Homo sapiens: one gene and its partners. The protein of the gene in region 4 interacts with the protein of the main gene of each other region in a pairwise test. Each region holds a gene or a part of one and is shown on either strand. Other genes may lie near its edges. The genes, in order: RNF183, PCMT1, KRTAP8-1, ATXN1, ZC3HC1, STAC2 and SNAP29.

Region 1 (4,277 bases), on a different chromosome or scaffold from region 4:
TATATAGGAATCCAGCCACGCACAGTGGAGGAAGAGCGTTGCAGGCCCAGGGAACAGCATGTGTGGCCCCGAGGTGAGAAAAGCTCTTCCAATTTGAGAAAGTGAAAGGAGCCCAGGGTGATCAAGGTGTGGTGACCGGAGTAGGCAAGGTGGGAGGGTATAGTACTCGGGACCTGTGAACTCAGGAGCTCATCTGGATTTTATTCCAGGGGTGAGCGGTAGGGTAAGGTACCTGATCCTATTTCCATTTTTAAAACACCATTCTAGCTGCAGAGCAGAGGACAGGCTGAGAGGGATAAGATCGGGAAGGGAACACCCGTTCGGGCTGCAGCAGTGTGGCTCAGGCGTGTGATGGTGGTGCAGGTTAGGCAGTGGCAGAGGAGATAAAAGGGGATGGGATAAGTGATATCTTTGGGGACAGAATCAAAGCCACTTCCCAAGAAGCAGTGGAGTTCTAGGGATCCAGTTGTAGTTTCTGTCAAGGTTCATGATGCCAGATCCATGGCTATTTAGGGCTGTGATTCCAGTTGAATTGCTTGACCTCTCTGTGCCTCTATTTCTCCTTGTGCAAAGGAAGCCAAAACTAGTAAAGCTTTTAGTTAGAGCCCAGCACCCAGTAAAGACCACAAAGCAATGCATGACCTAAAAATGGGACTATGTTCTCAGAAACACATCGTTGTATGAACAGCACAGAGAGTATTTACACAAACCTAGATGGTAGAGCCTGCTACATGCCTAGGCTATACGGTCTAGCCTGTTGCTCCTAGGCTACAAACCCATACAGCTTATTATGTTCTGAACACTGTAGGCAATTGTAACACAATGATAATTGCGTGTGTCTTTCAACATAAACTTAGAAAAGGCAAGGTAAATATATGGTATTATAATCTTAGGTGGCCACCATCACATATGTAATTCACTGTTGATCAAAACATTGTTATGGATATATGAGGCAGTTGAAATTATTAATGCAAATGGATTTGAGAGAAAGGAAGGGTCAAGGTTGATTTCAAAGCCGTGACAAAGTCCTCTGCATCAAGCTTTGAGAAGCCCCTGAATCCCAGAGTGTGTTAGAAGCAGATCTTTAATACTTACCAGAGGCCGTAAACTGTATGTAACCTTGACTCATCATTTCCCCCACTGGGAATCGATTCCACGGAAACCATCAAGGACTTCTGCAAAGATGTGAGTAAAGAGATGCCCATCCAGGCGCTGGTTTAACGGTGACGTATGGAGAACTACGTCATCATCCAGTAATAGGACATTGATTAAGTAGATTCTGCTCCATCCATAGGAAGAGATATTATGCAGCCTTTAATATGATGTGGTAAAACTATTAATATGGATATATACCTAGGATATAATGTCATTAAGCGAAAAAGAACCAGCAACAAAACCATATTACCATATAATCCAATTTCCAAAAGTGTGTGTGCAATGGAAAAAATGTCTGGAGAGATAAACAACCAGATATTAGCAGTGGTTATCTCTGGGGGCAAGATTATAAGTTTTTTTTTTTTTTTTAATTCTCTTACCTGAAAATTCTAACTTTACTCCATCCAGTAAGCTTGTATTACTACACGTCAAGATCTCCTGTTTCCCCCCAAATCAGACCTACCTTCTCTGAAGTTCCATGGCCAGAACTGTAAAAGGCTGTCCAAGAGGAGGAAGCATCATTATTGCCTGGATCTTTATCTGTGCTGCTCTCCCAGGGATCCACTGCTGTTTCAGGATCAGCTGGGGAGAGATTCTGGCCATGTATCACCTCCACCCCAAGCCAGGACATCTCAGCTACAGTAAATCCTAAACACCGCCCCAAAGTCATCTCCTTGGTCTATGAACAAGTCATCGCCAAATATCAATTGTCCCCAGCATCACTCCATTGTTTTCAACCAAGAACTGGCATTTCCATAGCACTTCACAGTTTACAAAGGGCCCTGGCCCTTGCTAAGATCTAAGTGTGGTGATCCATCTAGATAGGTTACTAGCCTTTTGGGATTTTTTGTTGTTGTTTGCAGAAAGCCATTTGATACTCTAAAACCACCCTGTGAGAGAGGCTGAATGGGGAGTAGAAAGGTGCCGGCTTTGGAACCAGATTTGGAACAATTTGTCTTGGACAAATGGCTTAACCTCTCTGAACTTCATTTTCCTCTGTAAAAAAGGCTAATCATCCCACTCCTACAAGGTTGCTCTGGGGAAGGAATAGTCTATACGGTGCCCAGTAGAATACGGAAGGCGCTCAATACAGAGTTAGCATGATTATTTTTAGACCCATTTTCTAGATGGGGAAGCCAAGGCTCAGAAGGGTGAGGCAACTTGCCGAAGTCTTCCCAGCTAAAGAGTGGCTGAGTTTGAAAGATGAACCCAGTAGCCTGCCCTCCCAGGCCAGAGTTCACCTGTCGCGCGCTGCACGGCTGCTGCCTCTCTGGACTCTGGAGCCCTGTGACCCGTCCCTCCGCGACCCTCTCTGTCTCCTTACCTGCTCCCTCGGAGCCGCCTCCTCCGCCTCCGTTCGTGCAGCCCTGCACGCATGTGCTTTGTTTTCTGACTTCCCAGGCCCGATTTCCAGGTAGCGTGGGTGGGTCTTATTTGCATAGGTCTTAGCAGCGTTTGGCCAGCTCTCGCTGTTTCAGGTTTTCTTCTTCCTTCTGGTGACTTTGGACCTCCTGTACACCCTGGAAGCTTTGGTTGCTTTGTCTTTCTCCTGTGAGTCACTCTGGCTTTTTCTCTGAGGGGATCAAGTGCGCTCATCCTTGCAGGCCTCTGTTCTGGGTCCGATTGATCTCCTGCCATCCCCTCGGATTCCACTGTCCTCTGTGCGCTGACCTGCCTCGACTCCTGGCTTCTGCCGAGATGGATCCTTCCCTATGCTGAGTCCCTGTAACCAAAATACAGATAGCTCTTGCAAAATACTGACAAAAGCGGCCACTAATACAGCAGAAAAATAGTCGGGAGACGGTTGAGCGTCTGCCTGAAGAGCCAGGGTTCTCAAGCAAGGCACACTTCTAGGTCAGAGTTCAGCCCTCACTGAGAATCCAAACTCCGTTTAACTACCGATGGAGACTTGAGCAAATTAATTAACTTCTGCCAGCCTCAGTTTCCTCACCTGAAAATGGCCATAATAACCTACCTACTTGATCTGTAGATTAAATGAGGTAATACGTGTCGAGATCGCGTAATAACACAGGGCCTGGCAGACAGTAACTCGCTAAATGTTAACCAGAACTATTATTGTTATAACCGGTCTGTTCACGTGGCCCATCTTTTGTTCCCGCTCAAATTCTTTTTGTACCTATGGTCCTCTTTTCTTTCTCTCTCTCTTTCTTTCTTTTTTTTTTTCTTTCTTTTTTTTTTTTTTTTTTAAGACGTAGTTTTGCTCTGTCGCCCAGGCTAGAGTGCAGTGGGGCGATACTGGCTCACTGTAACCCCCACCTCCCTGGTTCCAGCAATTCTCCTGCCACGGCCTCCCGAGTAACTGGGACTACAGGTGCGCGCTACCATGCCCGGCTAATTTTTACATTCTTAGTAGAGACAGGATTTCGCCTTGTTGGCCAGGCTGGTCTCAAACTCCTGACCTCAGGTGATCCACCTGCCTCGACCTCCCAAAGTGCTGAGATTACAGGCATGAGCCACCGCGCCTGGCCCCTTATTTCTTTACTGACATTTTCAGCCATACTTGAGAAATAAACAAGTAAATAAATGTATCTGCTTGGTGATGTAATCAAATGCCCTAGTCCCCGCATTTTGTGTTTTTTTACATTAATTTTTATGTATTGATTTATTTTGAGACAGAGTCTCACTCTATCATCCAGGCTGGGGTGCGGTGGCACGATCACAGCTCACTGCAGCCTCAACCTCCTGGGGTCAAGCAGTCTTCCCACCTCCGCCTCCTGAGTACCTAGGACTACAGGTGCATGCCACCGTGGCTGGCTAATTTTTGTATTTCTTGTAGAGATGGGGTTTCTCCAGGTTGCCTAGGCTGGTCTCAAACTCCTGGGCTCCAGCAATCCACTTGCCAAAAGTGCTAAGATTACACTTGAGCCACCGTGCCCACATTTGATTTTTAAATAGGTAATATATTTACATGGTTGAGCATGTGAATGGTTTGATTTCACAGTGAAAACTGTCTCTTCGCAGCCACCTAGTTTCCCTGGAAATCAAAGTATTATACTATCAGTTTGTTGTGTATCTTTCCAAAGATGTTTTATACATACACAAACAGCATGTCCATGGCAAAACATCTATGTATTCCTTTACCTCCTTTTTACACAAATGTG
Region 2 (3,500 bases), about 130 Mb from region 4:
AAACTACAAATCATAATTCTTGCATATTCAAATGCCTACTAAAAATCTCGACTTAAATGTCTTATAAGAAAAGCATTCCTCAAAATAATCTGATCTCCCACAGTCCCCTCCTCACAGAATAAACGTGGCTGCTCACTCACTCACCATTTCCAATTTAGAAAATGGCAAATCATTCCAGTTGCCAAGGCCTAAAACCTTGGTGTTGGATCCTTGCCTCCAATCTTTTCTCCCAGATCCTAAATCCAAATCTGGAATTCGCTATTTCTTCTGCCTGGAATGCTTATCCCAAGTCTACCTGCGTGATATGTGTCTACTCCTCCAGCAAATCTTTGGTCTAATGATACCTTACTGAGGCCTTCTCTACAACTATAAACCTACTGCCCCACACACTCTGTCCTCCCTCCCTACTTTGTCACTTATCATGTGACATACTATACTTGGCTGCTCCCATTAGAAGCTACAAGAGGGAGTGGATGTTTGTTTTGTTCACTGCTGTATCCCCAGTGCCTGTCATATAGAAAGCACTAAAATATCAGCTGACTAAATGACAAATTCCATAAACATTATATATGTAAAATGACAAAATCAAGAATGCAAAAGAAACATAAGTAGAAACAATTGATCATTAGGGGAATGGACTGAATTATTTTTACAAATAAAAATAGATAAAAGAACAATTGCTTTCAGTGGTCAGTACAGTAGTTTCCCTTTACCCACAGGAAATACGGTCCAAGACCCTTAATAGATGCCTGAAACCGCATACAATACCAAAGCCCATACAGCCCATACAGATACTCAACATTTTTTTTTTTTTGAGACAAAGTATTGCTCCATCACCCAGGCTCGAGTGCAGTGGCATGATCTTGGCTTACTGCACCCTCAACCTCTCGGGCTCAAGTGATCCTCCCATCTCAGCCTCCCACGTAGCTCATGTAGCTGAGACTACAGGCATGCACCATAATGCCCAGCTAATTTTGTTTATTTTTTGTAGAGAAAATGACAAATGTTATTTTCACTATGTTGCCTAGGCTGGTCTCAAACTCCTGGACTGAAGCGATCCTCCTGACTCAGCCTCCCAAAGTTCTGAGATTACAGGTGTGAGCCACCGCACTCGGCCTTCCTTAACTTATAACAGGTTTATTATGACAGGTTTACATCCAGTAAAGTAAAAAACTTGTAAGTCAAACCACTGTTAAGTCAGGGACCATCTGTATGTTGTTTTCTTCCTATACGTAACATACCTATAATAAAGTTTAGTTTATAAATTAGGCACAATTAAGAAATTAACAAAAATAATGAATAAAATAGAACAAGTATCATTACATGCCAGCACCATTATTCTTGCACTTTGGGTCCATTATTAAGTAAAATAAGGATTATTTGGACACAAGCCCTGTGATACTATGACAGTCACTGCTAACCAAATAGGCTACTAAGTGACAAACGGGCAGGTGTAGACAGCATAGATATGCTGAACAAAGGGATGATTCATGTCACGGGCAGGATCAAGTGGGACGTCCAGAGAGTTCCTCACGCTACTCAAAACAGCACACAATTTAAAACTTATGAATTGCTTGTTTCAGGAATTTCCCATTTAATATTTTCAGACCTCAGTTGACTTGGGGTAACTGAAACTTCAGAAAGCAAAACCATGGGATAAGGGAGGGACTACTCTATAGCATTTGAAGCCTATCCATTAAGTTAACATCCCACAAACCCTCTGGTTTAAATACCCCTGCTCCAGAACATCACCTCACCTACTCTGGCTATCTTCCTAAATTTTACCATGGCTTGAAATTATCTCAATACGAGTAGGAAGTAAACTCTAATATAAACATTATTTAAATAGTCACATTCCCTGGATTAAGCAGGCTCACGGTTTCAAATTAAGCTAATTTGTTTCACGAGCACATTACCAGTCCATAATCATAAAATAATTGTATTTTTTCATTTCTAGAGACCTGTGCTGTCCAATATGGTAACTACTGGATACATGTGGTTATTTCATTAAGTTAATTTTTTAAAAAATTGAATTTCGGTTCTTCAGTTGTCCACATTTCAAATGTTAAATGCCACATGTAGCTAGTAGCTACCACACTGGACAATATAGAGAACATCACCAAGCACTCTATAGGGCAAGACTGCTATAGACTTTTTCTAAAACATTATTCTAAAGCATAAAACTGATTTAGCTGATATGCTGGCAGAATTCAACCTTATAATTTTCAATTCTCCATGTCACTGGTTCTCAAAATGTGGTCCCTGGACCAGCAGTGGCACCACTTACAAATCTGTTAGAAATACAAATTCTCAAGCTCCGGCAATCTGTATTTTGAAAAGCTCTCCAGGTGATTCAGGAGATTTTGAAGCATGCTCAAGTTTTAGTCACTGTTCTAAGTTACTTAAGAGTGGTTATAATATAAGCCATGACATAAGAAATCTACCATTACAATCTGAAATATTCTATAAATGATGCATCAACTATGAAATCATACAACCACAGTCCTATTATGATAGATTTTAATACAAAAGGAAAACAAAATATTCTTAACAAATTATATTAAGCTTCATTTCTTAAAAACAAAACAAAACAAAACAAAAAAAACTATTGGCCAGGTGTGGTGGATCATGCCTGTAATCCCAGCACTTTGGGAGGCTGAGGCAGGCAGATCACCTGAGGTTGGGAATTCAAGACCAGCTGACCAACATGGAGAAACCTTGTCTCTACTAAAAATACAAAATTAGCTGGGTGTGGTGGCGCCTGCCTGTAATCCCAGCTACTCGGGAGGCTGAGGCCAGAGAATTGCTTGAACCTGGGAAGCAGAGGTTGTGGTGAGCTGAGATCGTGCCATTGCACTCCAGCCTGGGCAATAAGAGCGAAACTCTGTCTCAAAAAAAAAAAACCATTAAAAATGTAATTTCCTTCCCCTTCTAGTAAGCAGGCCCCTTTTCATTTCAACATCAACACAATCACATTTTTATATTTTTCTAAGATTTCAATTAAAAGCCTTTAATTTAGGAAGAATATACACAGTAGAATAATGAGGAAGGAAGGCAATATTTTCAAATTTTATGTCAATTACAATTTTCACATGAGCAAGTATTACTTTTATAATAAGCTAATAAAAAGAAATCTATTAGCTAGAATTACCTCAGCAAGAAGTTGAAACTAAAGTTGCACAAGTGTTACAAAAGAGGCTAAACAACTATTCTACTCTAATTTCCTCTTACCAATCATAAATCTAGTATAAAACTATTTGCAAAATCAACATCTATGTATATTAAATATTCCTTATTAAATTTCCTGACAGAAAAACATCCTTAGAAATTTCAGCTAAGAACAGTAATGCAATACATTAAAGTGATTATGAAACCACCGGGAAAAGATCTATCTAGTCTTGGCTTACCACAAATTTGGCCCAAAAAAGGAGAGACTTTAAGAGCCTGATTGATTACAAATTTCTGCCACAGCCAAGTGCCTACTATGATAACCTACCGGT
Region 3 (2,449 bases), on a different chromosome or scaffold from region 4:
AGGGGATTTATCCCTTCACCTTAAAAACTCTCAGATTTCCAAAGGATGTCTGTGGCTTCTCTATTACTCAATGCTCCAGCATCCTTCATTAGGGGGCATGGCACTTTAGTCTATAATCCTTAGTCCCTGGGAAAGGGAACACAGTGGATTTCATTTGGACTAACATGGAAGTGACTGAAAAAGTTCCTCCTGTGTTGGGTTTTCTTGCGGAGGAGCAGAAGTAGTGAGATGAGAAGGGGACCCCGAGCAATAAATGGTGCTCCATTGGGTTGGAGGTGGGCATCATAAAATTTAAAGAAGGTTCAAACAGGCAACCTTTTAAGTCATTACCTGCAACCCACCCTCTTACCTGCTTATCACACAGGATCAGTAATTCTTTGCTTTCTGGCTGTTCCTAATGCCCACATGAGAAAAATAAATTCACTTCCCCCCCACCACCCATGTAACAGAAAATATGCACACACCAAGAAAGGAAACTTCGCTCTAGCATGAGAATATTATACCAGCTGAGACAAATTTATTGAGATTTTGATAGACATATCCATGACTTCATCACAAGTCATGAGTGTCATGGAAAATTCAAAAGTAGCTCATGACAAGTGGGAGGTCAAATTTCCGAAAATGTCCCAGAGAACATCAGCCAGGGGAGGCAGCTTGAGGAAGCGTCTGCTTTTTCATTTTCCTCCCCTGGGACTCGAGGTAAGTTGGAAAGCAGTGTCTCTGAGGTTGATGAGCAAATGAGGACTGAAGGAGTGGATACGGGGGGAACCTGGAGATGTGGGGCTCAGCCTTCAAGGGAGAGAAGATGCTACACCTCGGGGATTTCAGCCAATCAGTAGAGAGCAAATGGCGAGTATCTCCTGTAGCCGAAAGCCCCACAGCCGTTGTAGCCATAGCCGAAGCCATAGCCCACTGGAGAGTAGGTGCTGCCATAGCCACAGCCAACGCTATATCCCAGCGGGTAGCCATAGCTGCCCCAGTAGCATCCTGGGAAGACAGCCCCGGGGAAGTTGTCGCAGAGCATGGTGTCGGGAGTGGAGGGCTTAGGTAGCAACAGAGTGCGTTTCCTCAGTGGGATGGATTCCTAGTCTCAGAACCTTCTTTATATATCCCAGCTCTGGTGGGTGGTGAAAAACACAAAGCCCTCATTTTCATTCTTGACACCAATTTACATTCTAAAAAGCTCATTAACTTGTTTTGCTCTTGCTTATGATGTCTTTACAGTGGCTTAAGAAAGCTCTCGTGTGATGCAATACAGGGAGAAGATGCCTTTAAACAAATTATTTCCCTTCCTAAAAAAAAAAAAATTATTGCCAGGACTTCAAAGCACTCTGTCTTATAGACCCCATATAACTCTGTAAGCAGGTATATAATATCAAGAAATATTCTGAGGTTGTTAGCTGTTATGCAGTCCTCTTGCTCTCTGAATTTCCACAACACACAGTTGAAATTCAATAAATATGTGTTAAATACATTAATATATAAAATAACAAATGGATAGTGAGTCTATCTCAAAATTCTCAAAATTAAAGTATGTCTTAGTATTCACCTGCTTCAAGGATTCTCTTTTTTGGAATATGAAAGACAAGTGCAATGGAACTCATGAGAAAGAGTCTTTTTTTTTTCCTCTACTACAGCTACCGTGTTTGGGAAACTGGTTAAAAGTGTAATCTTAATCATAGTCCCCTCCTAAACTATACCTAACATCACATTTCTAGAAGACTACTTGAATTAATAGTATTGAGATTTTAAAACGGAGTATTTGGATTAATCCTTGTACTGAATTGTCAAACAAATTTAATTTTTTGGCCTGAAACATATTTCAAACTAAACATTGAAACTAATAAGGTAAACACAGAAAAATGAATTAAAAAATTTATTGTAAGATTTAAAATTTTTTTTCTCTTAGATCTAATGAAACTAGATTGTCTGACAAATGTGATGATATTATAAAGGGCCAGATGACAACATGAAATCAGTTATTTCACTTTTACAATGATCATGCACCCCAGGATAAAGAAGGAATGTTATTCCTTTCTAAACAGAGAGTCAGTTCTCAAGCATGAGTTAAAGGAGGGATAAGGCTGATCAAAACTATCTTGGATCATGTAAGACCTGATATATTATTCTCAGACACCTGCATTAAGATTTCTTACAGTGGCACTTAGTAGAGAACTTACAGAACAAATACCAAAGAGGGCATATGGAACAGAAATAGGCACAGAGATAATAGGAATCATTCTAGAAGGCCACAAAACAGATATGTATTACACATGAGCTCTCCCAGATTTTACTTCATAACCCAGAGGTAACTTTGCTCCCTGCTATCAGCAGCTAGGAATCAAAGGCTGAATCCAAGAACAAGATGAGACACTTGGAAAATTCAAAACCATGCCAGTGTTCTAGCCAGCAGTAGACTAATTACAGCAGAGGCATTTTTTTTAAATAT
Region 4 (3,500 bases):
AGTATGTAAATGCATCTCCCCAGACAGTGAAAGGAGCCTGACAATCCTGCTGGTGTTTATTGTGAACAGATCAACAAGTATTTGGTACTTGTTAGAAACCTTTCAGAGCTCACTAAAGCAACATTTCTTTTGCAGTCTGGTGCCTTTGGCCTTGCAGTCAGTCACTTAACCCTTTCAAGTGTGAAGAGCGTTCATCATTTGGAACCTCCATTGCCCATAGCGATGGCTGGATTTCTAAAGGGTTTACTCAGGGGAATAACTTATTCGGAAAATATATTCCCATTGTCACATTTTAAAACTTGACAGCCATCATAACAAAAACTGGTACTGACAGTAGGCAGACATTCTGAATGTATTCATTCTTAATTTGGATCTATTGGCTGTGATTTGAATGATCTTTGGTAGTAAGTTAAAAGGATTTTTTTTTCCTTAGCTAAGCGAGAAACGATAGAGGCCTATAGCTAGAGGACTGATAGTGCATGGTGCTTTTGGACAATAAACATGTACTTTATTTTAGGATGTAATTTAGTGAGCAGTTAGAAAGCAGTATTCTAGTCTTTGCATTAGGGCACCACTGATAAAGCTGGCTAAGCAAAGAGAAATAATATTATGGCAAAAAGGAAAAAAGGAAAAGTTGCTTTAGTTGCTGAAGCTCTGTGCTGCTCAGGCAATCCAACTAAGTGGGGCAGGGGGCGGGCGGGGGGGAGTATTTTCATAACCCTGGTATTTGAAAGAAAAGATAATTGAGAATTATGTCTTGATTTAGTTGTGACTGCCAGTCAGTTTACAATTTTATGGCCAACAAAGCTAAACTGGTAAATTTTTTCCCCCAGGGCTAGGATTGAGAGAGCTACTCAACTCTATTCCCAGGGGGTTTATGAGTTTTTACCGTTTTGTGAGTTTATGTGGTTGGTAAATTCATTGTGGCCTGGTCAGATGAAGCACTGCTGTAGTTAAAATGAGCTATTATTTCTTCTAGCTACTCAACTTTTATAAGGTGGTAAATAGATGGGAAGCAAGGATGTCAATATTACACAATGCCTTGGAGGTCCTGGATTCTATTTTGCAACATATAGAAAAATGCTTTACTTGCAGTAAAATGTGAACATATATTTTTCAGTGCACAAATAAATTCATGTGAAAATAAGTATAAAAAAATGTACCTGGTGGGAACCGCCAAAGGCAATATTTTTCCTTGCGGATTTCGTTTTAAGAGGGTTTGGTAAACAGAAGTGACACTTTGTCAAAAATGTTACGACTAGACTTCAGGACTTCTGAATTGTCTTTTACACTTAGAGGAAGATTAAACAGAAACTCTTTAGCCACAAGATTACATGTCAAATGCCTGTAAGTTTCAACATACCTAAGTCAGTTGCCTAGGAGTCCTGGGAAAGGCCAGTGCTGAGATTATTGAAATATTAGTAAACATTACTATGACTCCTGTTTTTGTTGTCATTATGGAGTCCAAGGACGCACATTTCTTTGAATAATGTTGTGCCTTTATTGTTTTTCATTCTGAAATGTCAAGTGGATTTTACTTTTTTGCACATACCTTGAGTGACAGTTTCTGATGACTAACACTAACACTCATTTTGTTTCCTATTAAAAGTTAAGCAATAAACATATTTTACTAAAATTCTGAAACTCACGTAAGTAGGTAAATGTGGGAGTGAATGTTAATTCTTTAAACTGTAGTTATCTGAAAATAACACATAGATTAGGATCTGAACAGCTTAAATACTTGCATCGGTAAAGTGACAATAGTGAAGTAAGACAGGCTATTATTTTTAGGGGAGAGATAGATTATTTGACTTTCCTTGCTCTGTATTTTCAGAGTAATTCAATAGTTCGAATGATTAGTTTCTGTGAGAGATTTAGATCTGTGCAGCTTAATTGCTTCAAATAACAGATTTAGTTCTGGTCATACTTCCAAGGTTATCAGAAGCAGGCCCTCCTTATTTTGATAAAAGCATTGAAAGCAATACATTGTAGAAATGGTAATAGAAATAATAATTTCTGTTTTAGGACCTTACATATAGAACTTCCTTTTCTAAGATAAGAATTTTAAGTCATCAATTATGTTCACATTTTATTTTCATGTAATTTAGTTTAATAAAATAAATGTACTCATTCAAAATTTTTTTAAGAAGTGATATACAGTGTCAGTTTTACAGAATTTTTTAAATGTTGGCTGAAAGAACGGTAATTACATTGAGATTTTTAAAAATATATAAATGCTTAAAATTACAGAAGTAATAAAAAGAATGGTTTTAGACAAATCTTATGGAAAGTTTTTTATTTTATTCTTTTATAATTATATTTATGGATATTTGTCTTTATTAGTGTAGTAATATATTTTATAACGCTCATAATTTGAACTTTCAGGCTAATGTACTATAAATATTTGTATTACGCATTACTACCATCCCAAATGTACCAAAACACGTTTAGAGAGAACAATTATGGACAAAAAAGCAACAAGCATTATATTTTGTTTGACATATTTCATGTTAGCAGAAATGTTTCATTGATTTTTCTGTAACTTTTAATGCATCCCATTTGTGGAGTAATGAAAATGTAATGATAATTGCCACAATGTAAGCAAAAATTGTATCCTACCTGAAAATTACTTTCCAGAAAATTCATGGTAGTGTACTCAGAATTTGAGACTCAAGAGGGCAGAGGTTTCCCCGATTGTGATGTTTTGATTTGGGCTAAGAGGAACTCTTTTTTTTTTTTTTTACACTTAGGTGCCCTTTAACATGACAAGTTTTGAATGAGTTAGGTAGCAGAAGTTTTTCGTGACAGTTATTGTAGCTACTAACCTATAGCATCTATCCTTCTAACGTTCAAAGAAAATATATTTTTCTGTCACTGTGTATGGCAAACTTTATTTTCTTGTGCCCTTAATTTTGTTCCCCTTTCTCACATTATCTCCTGGTACTTACTGACCATTACCTCAGTTTTGTTTAGGCCGTCTTTCTTGTTAATCTTCCAATATTAATAGTATTGTATTATGTTGCTCTGCTGGGTTTTAAAAATATTGAGTATTCCATTTTTGGTGTATATTATTGTATAAAATGTCCTATAAATTATTTTCTGGTATATTATTTTGTAAGTTTTTGCAGTGAATACGTGCTGCCTTGCTTGTATTCTTGCCTTCTTCCCTCTGATGGAATACAAGTTATGTAAACTCTCTGTATTATCCTAACTAGTGCAGCAACACAAATACTTTTGAAATAAGAAAGCATACTCATGCAAGAGTAAAGTAATCTTCTATGGCATTTACATCATGTTTGACCCTCCTCTGCACTTCAGCAAACTAGGAGGAGGTTGTAACTTGGACTCTATAAAACCTTATCTGCCAGGTGATATGTAAACAGGATTGTGTGCACACACATTGTCATATAGGCAAACACTCTCCCAACTGGTGAGCTCATAAAAAGCACTGTCTGTAAATTTATGGTACCTGCACCTCATTTGAGAATCAAGTATTTTGA
Region 5 (3,500 bases), on a different chromosome or scaffold from region 4:
CTGGGTTGGCTGAGGCAGAAGAATGGCGTGAACCCGGGAGGCAGAGCTTGCAGTGAGCCGAGACCCTGCCACTGCACTCTAGCCTGGGCGACAGAGCGAGACTCCGTCTCAAAAAAAAAAAAAAAAAAAAAAAAAAAAGAGACAGGGTCTTGCTCTGTCATGCAGGCTGGAAGGCAGTGACATGATTATAGCTCACTATAACTTGGAATTCCTGGGTTAAAGGGATCCTCCTGCTTCAACCTCACGAGTAGCTTAGGATGACAGGGGTATGCCACCACATCTGGCTAATTTTAAAAAATTTTTTCTTTGTAGAGACAGGGTGCCCAGCCTGGTCCCAAACTCCTGGCCGCAAGTGATCCTCCCACCTTGGCCCTGCAAAACACTGGGATTACAGGCATGAGACTCCATGCCTGGCTGGGGTTATTACTTTAAGTCCTTTTATGTCTTCTAAGTTTAGTTCTTTGCCTCAAGACTTACCCCTTGCAGTTTGTACTCTACCCTAGTTCATGTTATCTATAACATCTCTTCCTTCAAAAAATCTCGTAGCTTCTCATCACATACATTTAATAAAATCATGGTTTGGCCACTGTCTACACTTTAGTCTTCTCTTCTATTCTCCCCACAGGGACACTGTGAGCCAGCCCTGTGAAACTATTACAGCATTCCCCAAATGTACCATCCTTTGGCCTTTTGCTTTTACCCACTGTTGCTGGTCTTTCAAATTCAGCCTAGAGGCCAGGCACAGTGGTTCACGCTTGTAATCATAGCACTTTGGGAGGCCGAGGAGAGTGGATCATTTGAGGTCAGCAGTTCAAGACCAGCCTGGCTAATATGGTGAAACCCCGTCTCTACTAAAAATACAAAACTTAGCCAGGTGGTAGCGGCATGCACCTGTAATCCCAGGTACTCGGGGGTGCTGAGGCAGAAGAATCGCTTGAGCCTGGGAAGCAGAGTTTGTGGTGAGCTGAGATCAAGCCACTGCACTCAAGTCTGGGCAACAGAGTGAGACTGTCTCAAAAAAAAAAAAAAAAAAACAGCCGAGTGAAGTGGCTTCCTTCTTCAAAAAATCTCGTAGTTTCGCACCTGAACCTGGGAGGCGGAGGTTGCAGTGAGCCCTGTGAAACTATTCAGCATTCCCCAAATATATCAGCACTTTTTTTTTTAATGGAGTCTCACTGTGTCGCCCAGGCTGGGGTGCAGTGTTCAAGCGATTCTCCTGCCTCAACATCCCCTAGTAGCTGGGATTACAGGCATGTGCCACCACGCCCGGCTAATTTTTTTGTATTTTTAGTAGAGATGGGGTTTCACCACATTGGCTAGGCTGGTCTCGAACTCCTGACCTTGTGGTCCTCCCGCCTTGGCCTTCCAGACTGCTGGAATCACAGGTGTGAGCCATCACGCCTCGCCACTTTGCCTTTTTTCTTGGACTGTATTGCAGAATGTGGATTTGGAGCAAGTGGTCCTGAAGCACTTATTTTGTCACCCACAGATTAAGATTTTCCTCCACAGGCTACACTTGAAGGTCTCAACACTTTGAAGTCTCCTCTTATGGGGCATCCAGTCTAACCCTCTGGCTTGCTACTTAGCAATGGGTGTTCTGTGATGGGGTGATTTGGAAGGAAGGAGTCTGCCCCTTTCTGAGCCACAACAGTGAAGCCATTTGATCTGAGCCTAGGTGGGAGAGATATTTTAATAGATAAACATTCTAGCTTTGATTTTTCTGAAGAGTAATATGCCTGTTTTTTTTTTTTTTTCCGCAATTCAGGGGATTTTCTTTGGTGCACTTGTTGACTCTGCATGAATTTGCAATCCAAGGGAAAAGTTGGAGAAAGAACAAAGTTGGCTTTAAAAGTCAAGGTAAGGCTGGGAGTGGTGGCTCACGCCTGTAATCCCAGCACTTTGGGAGGCAGAGGCAGGTGGATCACCTGAGGACAGAAGTTCAAGACAGCCTGGCCAAAATGGTGAAACCTCGTCACTACTAAAAATAACACTTTGGGAGGCTGAGGCAGGAGAATCGCTTGAACTCAGGAGGGAAAAATTAGCCAGGCATGGTGGCGGGCACCTGTAATTCCAGCTACTCGGAAGGCTGAGGCAGGAGAATTGCCTGAACCCAAGAAGCGGAGGTTGCAGTGAGCCAAGATCGCGCCACTGCACTCTAGCCTGGGTGACAGAGTGAGACTCCATCTCAAAATAAAAAATAAAATAAAATAAAATAAAATGTTTAAAGAAATTTAATTTAGCTTATAATTATTGGCAAATGTTAGAAAAAAATTACCTTCAAAATTATTAGTTTTGCTTAATAAATTTAAGCATAAAGTGAAATAACTGAGTGTTCTTTTATCCACACAAATGTCCTTTGAATGTTAAAGAACCAAACCAAGGGATCATATAATTGAAAGGTTATATCTAAGATCCATGTAGGAGGTAGAATGGATAGGTCAAAGTGGGTGACCATAGAGAAGAGCATCTAAAGTGACTTTCAGGTTTCTGGCTAGGACAACTGGATGGGACGTCAGTGCCATTTGCCAAGATGGAGAAAGTTTTAGGTATAAGATGAAGAGTTCAGTTTTATACACATTGAGTTCCAGGTACCTATAATATTAAGTGGAAATGTTTAGAAGGTAGATGAAAATATGAGTCAAGCTCAAAAGAGAGGTCTGGATAGGAATTAGAGGTCTCCGAGGTGGTAGCTGAAGTTATGAATGAGATCAGGAAAGCAAAATGTACGGTGACAAGAGTTGGGAACCACCAATAGAGCCCTGGGCAGACCTTAAAAACTTGGACGGCCAGGCGCGGGGGCTCACGCCTACAGGCCTCCCAGCAATTCTGGAGGCCAAGGCAGGCGGATCACTTGACGTCAGGAGTTCAAGACCAGCCTGGCCAACATGGTGAAACCCTGTCTCTACTAAAAATACAAAAATTAGCTGGGTGTGGTGGCACGCGCCTGTAGTCCCAGCTACTCGGGAGGCTGAGGCAGGAGAATTGCTTGAACCCAGGAAGCAGAGGTTGCAGTGAGCCTAGACTGAGCCATTGCAGCACTCCAGCCTGGGCGACAGAGCAAGACTCCGTCTCAAGGAAAACAAACAAACAAACAAACAAACAAACTTGGACTGAGTGCACTAGACAAGGATGGAATCAAATCCTCATAGGACCAAGTTTTGTTATACAATACAGGTAAATAACTAGTAAATCCTAGCTATTTCAACAGCAGGAAATCCTTATTATACAATCATCTTCACTTAAACAATTTTATTTAATAATCCCTTTTCTACCACCCTTTCATTGATCAAAGGTAGAGGGGAATCTCTGGTTATTTTCAATCTATTTTCTCCTTTTAGTGGTAAATCATGGAATATTCTTAGCCATCAGTGACCCTGGAATTAGCCTGCCATCCTACTGAAATAAAAAATATACCTACATGGCACTGATTCCTGGTCAAGGCATGAAATATACAGATGAATAGTGTTGCTTTTTAACTATGGGTCTAAAGAATTTTTTTA
Region 6 (3,500 bases), on a different chromosome or scaffold from region 4:
CCTCCCAAAGTGCTGAGATTACAGGTGTGAGCCACCACACTTGGCACTTTGCCCTTTCTTTAACTCCCTGTCCTTCCTTTCTCAGGCTTCCCTCTGCCCCACACCAGTCTTTCCAGATCCTAAATGGATGAACCCCTCATGCCTCATCCTTCACATCTCTGGGAAGTCTTCCCTGATTTTGCAGATGAAGACAGCGAGCTTTTTCTTTTCTCTTAATTTAGAGATAGGGTCTCACCATGTTGCCCAGGCTGGACTCCAACTCCTGGGCTCAAGCAATCCTCCTGCCTCAGCCTCCCAAGTAGCTGGGATTACAGGTATGAGCCACCACACCCAGCTTTCAGCACACATTCTATGCTCTATTCCTTATCTTCCCCACTTAAGGCGCTCATGCTGATGGTGATTGATTGATGATTTGCATGACTGTCCATTTCAGTCCTATCTCCTTTACTAGACAATAAATTCCACCTTCTTCACTACTGTGTCTCAGAGTCCAGCACTGTGCCTGGCACTTAGTATGTGCTTAATAAAGTGCTTGTTGAAGGAATGATGAGTGAATGAATGAATGAACCCCAAATTCAGGACAGGAACATCCAGAGAAGGGAAATGGTAGGAACTGTCTGTGCCAGTGTGACTCAGGCACCCATCTCAGAAATGTTGATTTCTTTCTTTTTTTTTGAGATGGAGTCTCACTCTGTAGCCCAGGCTGGAGTGCAGTGGCGTGATCTTGGCTCACTGCAACCTCCGCCTCCTGGGTTCAAGCAATTGAGAGACGGGGTTTCACTGTGTTGGCCAGGCTGGTCAGGGATGTTGATTTCTCATCCCACCACAATGGGAGCAGGGACTGCGGCCAGGGGGGGCACTCACCAGTGGGTGGGGACTCTTTGCTTGTGGCACAGACTGGTGGCGGCTCATGCACCAGGAGAGGGGAACTGAAGTTGCGGCGGAAGGAGGTGGACTATGGCAAGAGAGGGCAGAGAGGTTTTGAGGAGGTCATGGCCTATGGAGAACTTGGTCCTTCCCAAGCCCAGGGCCCACCCCACAGGAAGGAGCAGCCCTGAGGGATACTCATTCTCCCATGTGACAGTACTGGCAGCACTCAGCTGGCCATCTCTGCCTGGGTCCCCGCTCACCGTCTTGCCTGGGCATTGCTGGTGGGAGATCTCCTCAGAGCACCAGAGGTGGACGCTGACTTTGCACATCTTACATCGCAAGCCCTGTTTGGAGTTTCCTAGGAAGAATTTGGGTTCAGCAATTGAGGACACCCCCGTGGGCAACAGGCAAAGGAGGGGCACATTAGGGGATGAGGAGAGCAGGGGTTGGGCATTCTCATGCCAGCCTTGAGGCCCAGCACCTACCCCTCACACAGTCAGGGTATGAGGGAGCACGGAAGCCAGAGTCGTTAGTAAACATGGCAGTGACACTGAGGCAGTGACACTGAGTATACCCCCACCCTTGGTGGTGCTCCTCTCTCTGCCTTGGGTAAGAGGCACAGTTGGGGGTGGGTGCAATGGCTCACATCTGTAATCCCAGCACTTTGGGAGGCTGAGGTGGATGGATTGCTTGAGCCCAGGGTTTGACCAGCCTGAGCAACATGGCAAAACCCCATCTCTACAAAAAATATTTTAAAATTAGCTGGGCATGGTAGTGTGTGCCTGCAGTCCCAGCTACTACAGAGGCTGAGGCAGGAGGATCCCTTGAGCCAGGGAAGTGGAGGTTGCAGTGAACCAAGATTGCATCACTGCACTCCAGCCTGGGAGACAGAGCAAGACTCTGTCTCAAAAAAAAAAAGAGGCACAGAGGCACAATTAGTATTGGGGCTCCTGAACAGCAAGAGCCCAATAATATTGGGCGCAACATGAGCCCACTCCCCAGTACCCACGCTGGCCCCTCCCCGTGGCCGCCTCAGTGCCCAGGCACCTACCTACGATGAGCTGGTGGCACAGCTCACAAGGGCTAGCTCGCTTGAAGACATGTTCCTGGAAGCTGTGCAGCCTCACTGGTTTGAGCGCTGCCAGGGGGCGTGGGACTGGGCATGGGGAGGGGGATGGGGTAGCCAGGCCCCTGTCCGAGGCTGTGGGTGGTGGGGAGGGAGGGGGCAGTGGGGTTGGGGGCGTCAGCAGCACCTCGGTGGGGCACTTGAGCTCAGAGCCCGAGCGAAGGAAGAAGTTCTCCAAGCTCTTACTTCGGAGGATGGTCTTGAGGGAGAGGGAGCGCTTGAATCGCTGGAGCTGGGAGAAAAAGAGGGAGCTGTGAGTGGGAGCCTAGAGGGGGCTGGCCAGGGCGGGCTTCCCTTCAGGGTGTCTCTGGCGGTAGGGGCGGCAGCAGCAGCAGCAGCAGCAGCGTGGGGGCTGAGGGCCAGAGCGAAATGAAACAGCAACAGAGAGGCTCCCCAGGTCCCGACGACACTTCGCAATCTCAGGTGCCACAAAAGCCAGGTGGTTGACCTCCATGGAGAAAGGAGTTCTGGCCAGGTGGGCAGCAATCAAGAGCCGTGGGGACTGTGGCAAACTGGATGGCCAGGGAGTAGCTGCAGGTCTCCTCAAGCCAATTGAGGCTGTTGCCAGGTTTTCTAGTTTTTCAAAAGAAATCTAGACTTTTATGTGAAATCGGATAGAAACAAGTTTAAGTGGTTTAATTCCATTTTTCTTTGAAGAAATGGTAGTATACTATATTTCCTGTGCCTTGCTTTTTTTCATAAACAGTAAATCTTGGAAATCATTCCATACCCATACATAAATAGATTCATCATTCTTTTTTATGGCTACAAAGTATTTTGTTGTATGGGTGTACCATTTACTCAAGTTTAGAAAAAAAAAAATAGGCACGGTATGGTGGCTCCTGCCTATAATCTCAGCACTCTGAGAGGCTGAGGCGGGAGGGAATCGCTTGAGCCAAGCAGTTGGAGACCAGCCTGGGCAACGTAGTATCCACCTGTGTTCTCGAACAGGCTGGTGGGGGGTGAGGAGTGGTCGTCCTGGACCCTCATCCTTGGGACTGATTCTCCCCGACAGAAAGTCTCTCTAGCCCTCCCCTCCCTCCCATTGACTCGTCACCTCACAGCCCTTAGTTCAGGCCCTGATGCCCCAGTCTGCTTCAAGGCCACAGCCTCCCCTCCAGCCCCCTGCTTCCACCTGTCCTCCATACAGCTGTTGCGGGGGTGATGCCTGATCCTGCTAAAAACTCTTCCTAGCTCCTCGGGACACCGTCCAAGGCTCTCGCCCCAGCCACGAGACTCTCCTTGCAACTTGGCCAAACCTGTCCTTCCAACCTGTGCCTTTGCAGCCCAGAAACTCATTTCTCAATTCATTGAGAATTGAGAATCCTCAATTCTCAAACTCATCCATGCTTTTATGCCTCTGAGCTTTTGACATGTTTGTCCTCTTCTCTGCCTCACTCAGTTCATACCCTCTTTATCCTGCCAATATGCTTCCACTGGTCCTTCCTCCTCCAGGAACTCTCTTCTGCAGGAATTCTGTCTCATGACCCACTCCCTCCTCTGG
Region 7 (3,500 bases), on a different chromosome or scaffold from region 4:
TGTATTTTTAGTAGAGACGGGGTTTCACCGTGTTAGCTAGGATGGTCTCGATCTCCTGACCTCGTGATCCGCCCACCTTAGCCTCCCAAAAGTGCTGGGATTACAGGCGTGAGCCACTGCACCCAGCCGCCCCCCCATTTTTTTTTTTGGTCGTCCATGTAAATATGACTACAGGCCTGTATCACCATGCCCAGCTTTAAAAATTTTTTATGTTTGTAGAGACAGAATCTTGCTATGTTGCCCAGGCTGATCTTCAACTCCTGGCCCCAAGTGATTGTCCTGCCTTGGCCTTATAAAATGTTGGGATAACAGGCATGAGCCACTGTGTCTGGCCCTGCTGGGCCCTTGAAATGGCCAACAACTTCCTTCATCCCGGCTTCCCCTGTGCTTTTACTGCCATGTGCCTGCACCAACCCCTCCTTCAATTGGTGGGTTCCCTCAAAACCTTCACCTTCTGCAAAAAGTCAGGTCCTTTGTGCAGCCTTCCTCTGTTCCCAGGGCCAACCTCCCTCTCCTCTGGGTCCCCACTGCATCCCTGTGGACTGTCTGCCTCCCCCATATCTTCCAACAGACAGACTGCATTCCTGCAGCTTCTGCTCCCACAGAACTGCAGAGTGTGGGTGAAAGTTTTGCTTTCTTGAATTTACTAAGAGATGGCAAGAATGCTACAACTGATTGGGGCTAATCTAGGGGCAGGCCAGGCAGGGTACATGACTTTGGGGACCTTGACGGGAACGCATCAGCTTTAAGTGGAAATGAGAACAAGCAGCTTGGAAAGCTGTCAGCAAGGACAAACAGGACTTCCCAAGAGACAAAGCCCACCTCACTGAAATAACTATGGCTGCCTCACTGATGGAAGCCTTTGCTGGGAAGCCCCTGAGTTTTCATGATGCTCCAAAAAAAGAAAACTGCCCCTGGAGCCACAGGACTTCCATGGCTTTCATAGCTATGTTCAGGGATGCAGGGGCCTCCAAGAGCCCCAGAAGCAGCCTTTGTGAAGAGGTATGTAGGATGTGGAAGGGTGTGAAAGGGTGCTAGTCACAAACTTGCCAGCTTCCCACTCCTCCAAGGGCTCACTCTGCTCCTGAGTTTGTACATGGAGGATGTCTTAGACCAAAACAAATGAACATCCTACCTTCTCCTATGGCAATTAAATGTGGCCAAAGATTAGGATATAAAACATCTTTCTGATATGTATATTGAAAAAAAAACAACAAAAAACAAGCAACGACTAGAACTGGAGGGAAATGGCGGATGTTTAAAATTAGGGTTGAGCTGGAGAACCCAGAATGGTGATTATGGCTGAGCCAAAAAAACCAACCAACCCTCATAACCTTAGCTAGTGCCTCCCCAGGGCACTCACTGAGGCCGGCAGGTTCCCAGGGCCAACTCTGCAGGTCCCTCCTGCAGTACTTTTTTTTTTTTTTTTTTTGAGATAGGGTCTCACTCTGTCACCCAGGCTGGAGTAGACTGGTACAATCATAGCTCATTGTAGGCTCAACCTCCCTGGGTTCAGGTGATCCTCCCACCTAAGCCAAAAGGTCGGGTCCACCTCAGCCACCTCAGTAGCTGGGACCACAAGCACGTACCACCATGTCCGGCTAATTTTCGTGTGTGTGTGTGTGTGTGTGTGTGTGTGTGTGTGTGTGTGTGTGTGGCTAATTTTCGTGTGTGTGTGTGTGTGTGTGTCTGTGTGTGTCTGTGTGTGTCAGAGTCTTGCTCTGTCGCCCAGGCTGGAGTGCAGTGGCGTGATCTCAGCTCACTGTTGCAGTGGCGTGATCTCAGCTCACTGTAAGCTCCGCCTCCTGGGTTCACGCCATACACATTTCTCACCCTCCCGAGTAGCTGGGACCACAGGCGCCCGCCACCACACCCGGATAATATTTTGTATTTTTAGTAGAGACGGGGTTTCACCGTGTTAGCCAGGATGGTCTCAATCTCCTGACCTCGTGCTCCGTTGGCCTTGGCCTCCCAAAGTGCTGGGATTACAGGCGTGACTCACCATGCCCGGCCTTTTTTTTTTTTTTTTTTTTTTTTTTTTTGAGACAGAGTCTCACTGTTACCCAGGCTGAGGTGCAGTGGTGCAATCTCCGCTCACTACAACCTCTGCCTCCCAGGCTTAAGGGATTCTCCTCCTCAGCCTCCCAAGTAGCTGGGGCTACAGGCAGGCACCACCATGCCTGGCTGATTTTTGTATTTTTAGGAGACACTGGGTTTCACCATGTTGGCTGGCCTGGTCTCACACTCCTGACCTCAAACGATGCACCCGCCTCGGCCTCCCAAAGTGCTGGGATTACAGGCCTGAACCACCATGCCCAACTTCATTTTTGTGTTTTTCTGTAGAGACGGGGTTTTGTCATGTTGCTCAGGCTGGGATCAAGTGATCCTCCTGCCTCAGTCTCCCAAATTGCTGGGATTACAGGCATGAGCCACCATGCCTGAACCTCTCCATAACTCTTGATGGCTTCGCCTGCCTGTTCTTTCTGCCATCACCACCAGCTTTGTTACCTACACTGGTTTCTCCCCAGCCCCACTCTGAGTTTGAAGTAGTTATCTAATTTCCTCCCTGCCACACCCTACATCTTGATCTGGGTGGTGGCCACACTAGTGTACACAGGTTCACAGTCACTGGCTCTCCACTTAAGATGCACATATTTTACTGTACCTTAGTGATGCATTAAAAAAAACGGCTCTGCAGTTAGGTGTGGTGGCTCATGCCTGTAATCCTAGCACTTTGGGAGGCCGAGGTGGGAGGACTGCTTGAGGCCAGGAGTTCAAGACCAACCTGGCCAACACAGCAAGACCTCATCTCTTAAAAAATAAATAAATAAAATGAAAAAGAAAAGCTCCACATTACAGAATTAAAACAAAGAGAGAGGCCAGGTGTGGTGGCTCACGCCCATAATCCTAGCACTTTGGAAGGCTGAGGCGGGCGGATCATCTGAGATCAAGAGTTCGAGACTATCCTGGCCAACATGGAGAAACCCCATCTCTCCTAAAAATACAAAAATTAACCAGGCATGGTGACACATGCCTGTAATCCCAGCTACTCAGGAGGCTGAGGCAAGAGAATTGCTTGAACCTGGGAGACAGAGGTTTCAGTGAGCTGAGATGGTGCCACTGCACTCCAGCCTGGGCAACAGAGTGAGACTCTGTCTCAAAAAAAAAAAAAAAAAAAAAAAAAAAGCCTGGCGTGGTGGCTCGGCACTCTAGGAGGCTGAGGCAGGTGGATCACCTGAGGTCAGGAGTTTGAGACCAGACTGGCCAACATGGTGAAACCCCATCTCTACTAAAAATACAAAAATTAGGCCGGATGTGGTGGCTCACGCCTGTAATCCCAGCACTTTGGAAGGCGGAGGCGGATGGATCACGAAGTCAGGAGGTCGAGACCATCCTGGCTAACACGGTGAAACCCCGTCTCTACTAAAAATACAAAAAATTAGCCAGGCATGGTGGCAGGCGCCTGTAGTCCCAGCTACTCGGGAGGCTGAGGCAGGAGA

What was found.
Region 1: the proteins of ATXN1 (region 4) and RNF183 interact in binary tests that used the Homo sapiens proteins (3 or more experiments, as listed by UniProt).
Region 2: the proteins of ATXN1 (region 4) and PCMT1 interact in binary tests that used the Homo sapiens proteins (3 or more experiments, as listed by UniProt).
Region 3: the proteins of ATXN1 (region 4) and KRTAP8-1 interact in binary tests that used the Homo sapiens proteins (3 or more experiments, as listed by UniProt).
Region 5: the proteins of ATXN1 (region 4) and ZC3HC1 interact in binary tests that used the Homo sapiens proteins (3 or more experiments, as listed by UniProt).
Region 6: the proteins of ATXN1 (region 4) and STAC2 interact in binary tests that used the Homo sapiens proteins (3 or more experiments, as listed by UniProt).
Region 7: the proteins of ATXN1 (region 4) and SNAP29 interact in binary tests that used the Homo sapiens proteins (3 or more experiments, as listed by UniProt).

What each region holds. Positions count from the first base shown.
Region 1 is NC_000009.12:113,300,577-113,304,853, forward strand, and holds the start of RNF183 (E3 ubiquitin-protein ligase RNF183), read right to left. Parts: upstream 2,801-4,277; 5' UTR 2,480-2,800; intron 2,474-2,479; exon of another isoform or gene 1,738-2,473; 5' UTR 1,619-1,737; exon of another isoform or gene 1,176-1,618; 5' UTR 1,096-1,175; exon of another isoform or gene 1-1,095. UniProt on the Homo sapiens protein: Acts as an E3 ubiquitin ligase catalyzing the covalent attachment of ubiquitin moieties onto substrate proteins. Triggers apoptosis in response to prolonged ER stress by mediating the polyubiquitination and subsequent proteasomal degradation of BCL2L1.
Region 2 is NC_000006.12:149,752,741-149,756,240, reverse strand, and holds part of PCMT1 (protein-L-isoaspartate(D-aspartate) O-methyltransferase), read right to left. Parts: intron 1-3,500. UniProt on the Homo sapiens protein: Initiates the repair of damaged proteins by catalyzing methyl esterification of L-isoaspartyl and D-aspartyl residues produced by spontaneous isomerization and racemization of L-aspartyl and L-asparaginyl residues in aging peptides and proteins.
Region 3 is NC_000021.9:30,812,197-30,814,645, forward strand, and holds KRTAP8-1 (keratin-associated protein 8-1), read right to left. Parts: upstream 1,079-2,449; 5' UTR 1,025-1,078; coding exon 833-1,024; 3' UTR 501-832; downstream 1-500. UniProt on the Homo sapiens protein: In the hair cortex, hair keratin intermediate filaments are embedded in an interfilamentous matrix, consisting of hair keratin-associated proteins (KRTAP), which are essential for the formation of a rigid and resistant hair shaft through their extensive disulfide bond cross-linking with abundant cysteine residues of hair keratins.
Region 4 is NC_000006.12:16,754,961-16,758,460, reverse strand, and holds part of ATXN1 (ataxin-1), read left to right. Parts: intron 1-3,500. UniProt on the Homo sapiens protein: Chromatin-binding factor that repress Notch signaling in the absence of Notch intracellular domain by acting as a CBF1 corepressor. Binds to the HEY promoter and might assist, along with NCOR2, RBPJ-mediated repression. Binds RNA in vitro.
Region 5 is NC_000007.14:130,034,375-130,037,874, forward strand, and holds part of ZC3HC1 (zinc finger C3HC-type protein 1), read right to left. Parts: intron 1-3,500. UniProt on the Homo sapiens protein: Required for proper positioning of a substantial amount of TPR at the nuclear basket (NB) through interaction with TPR.
Region 6 is NC_000017.11:39,215,946-39,219,445, forward strand, and holds part of STAC2 (SH3 and cysteine-rich domain-containing protein 2), read right to left. Parts: intron 2,229-3,500; coding exon 1,922-2,228; intron 1,229-1,921; coding exon 1,131-1,228; intron 956-1,130; coding exon 865-955; intron 1-864. UniProt on the Homo sapiens protein: Plays a redundant role in promoting the expression of calcium channel CACNA1S at the cell membrane, and thereby contributes to increased channel activity. Slows down the inactivation rate of the calcium channel CACNA1C.
Region 7 is NC_000022.11:20,872,507-20,876,006, reverse strand, and holds part of SNAP29 (synaptosomal-associated protein 29), read right to left. Parts: intron 1-3,500. UniProt on the Homo sapiens protein: SNAREs, soluble N-ethylmaleimide-sensitive factor-attachment protein receptors, are essential proteins for fusion of cellular membranes.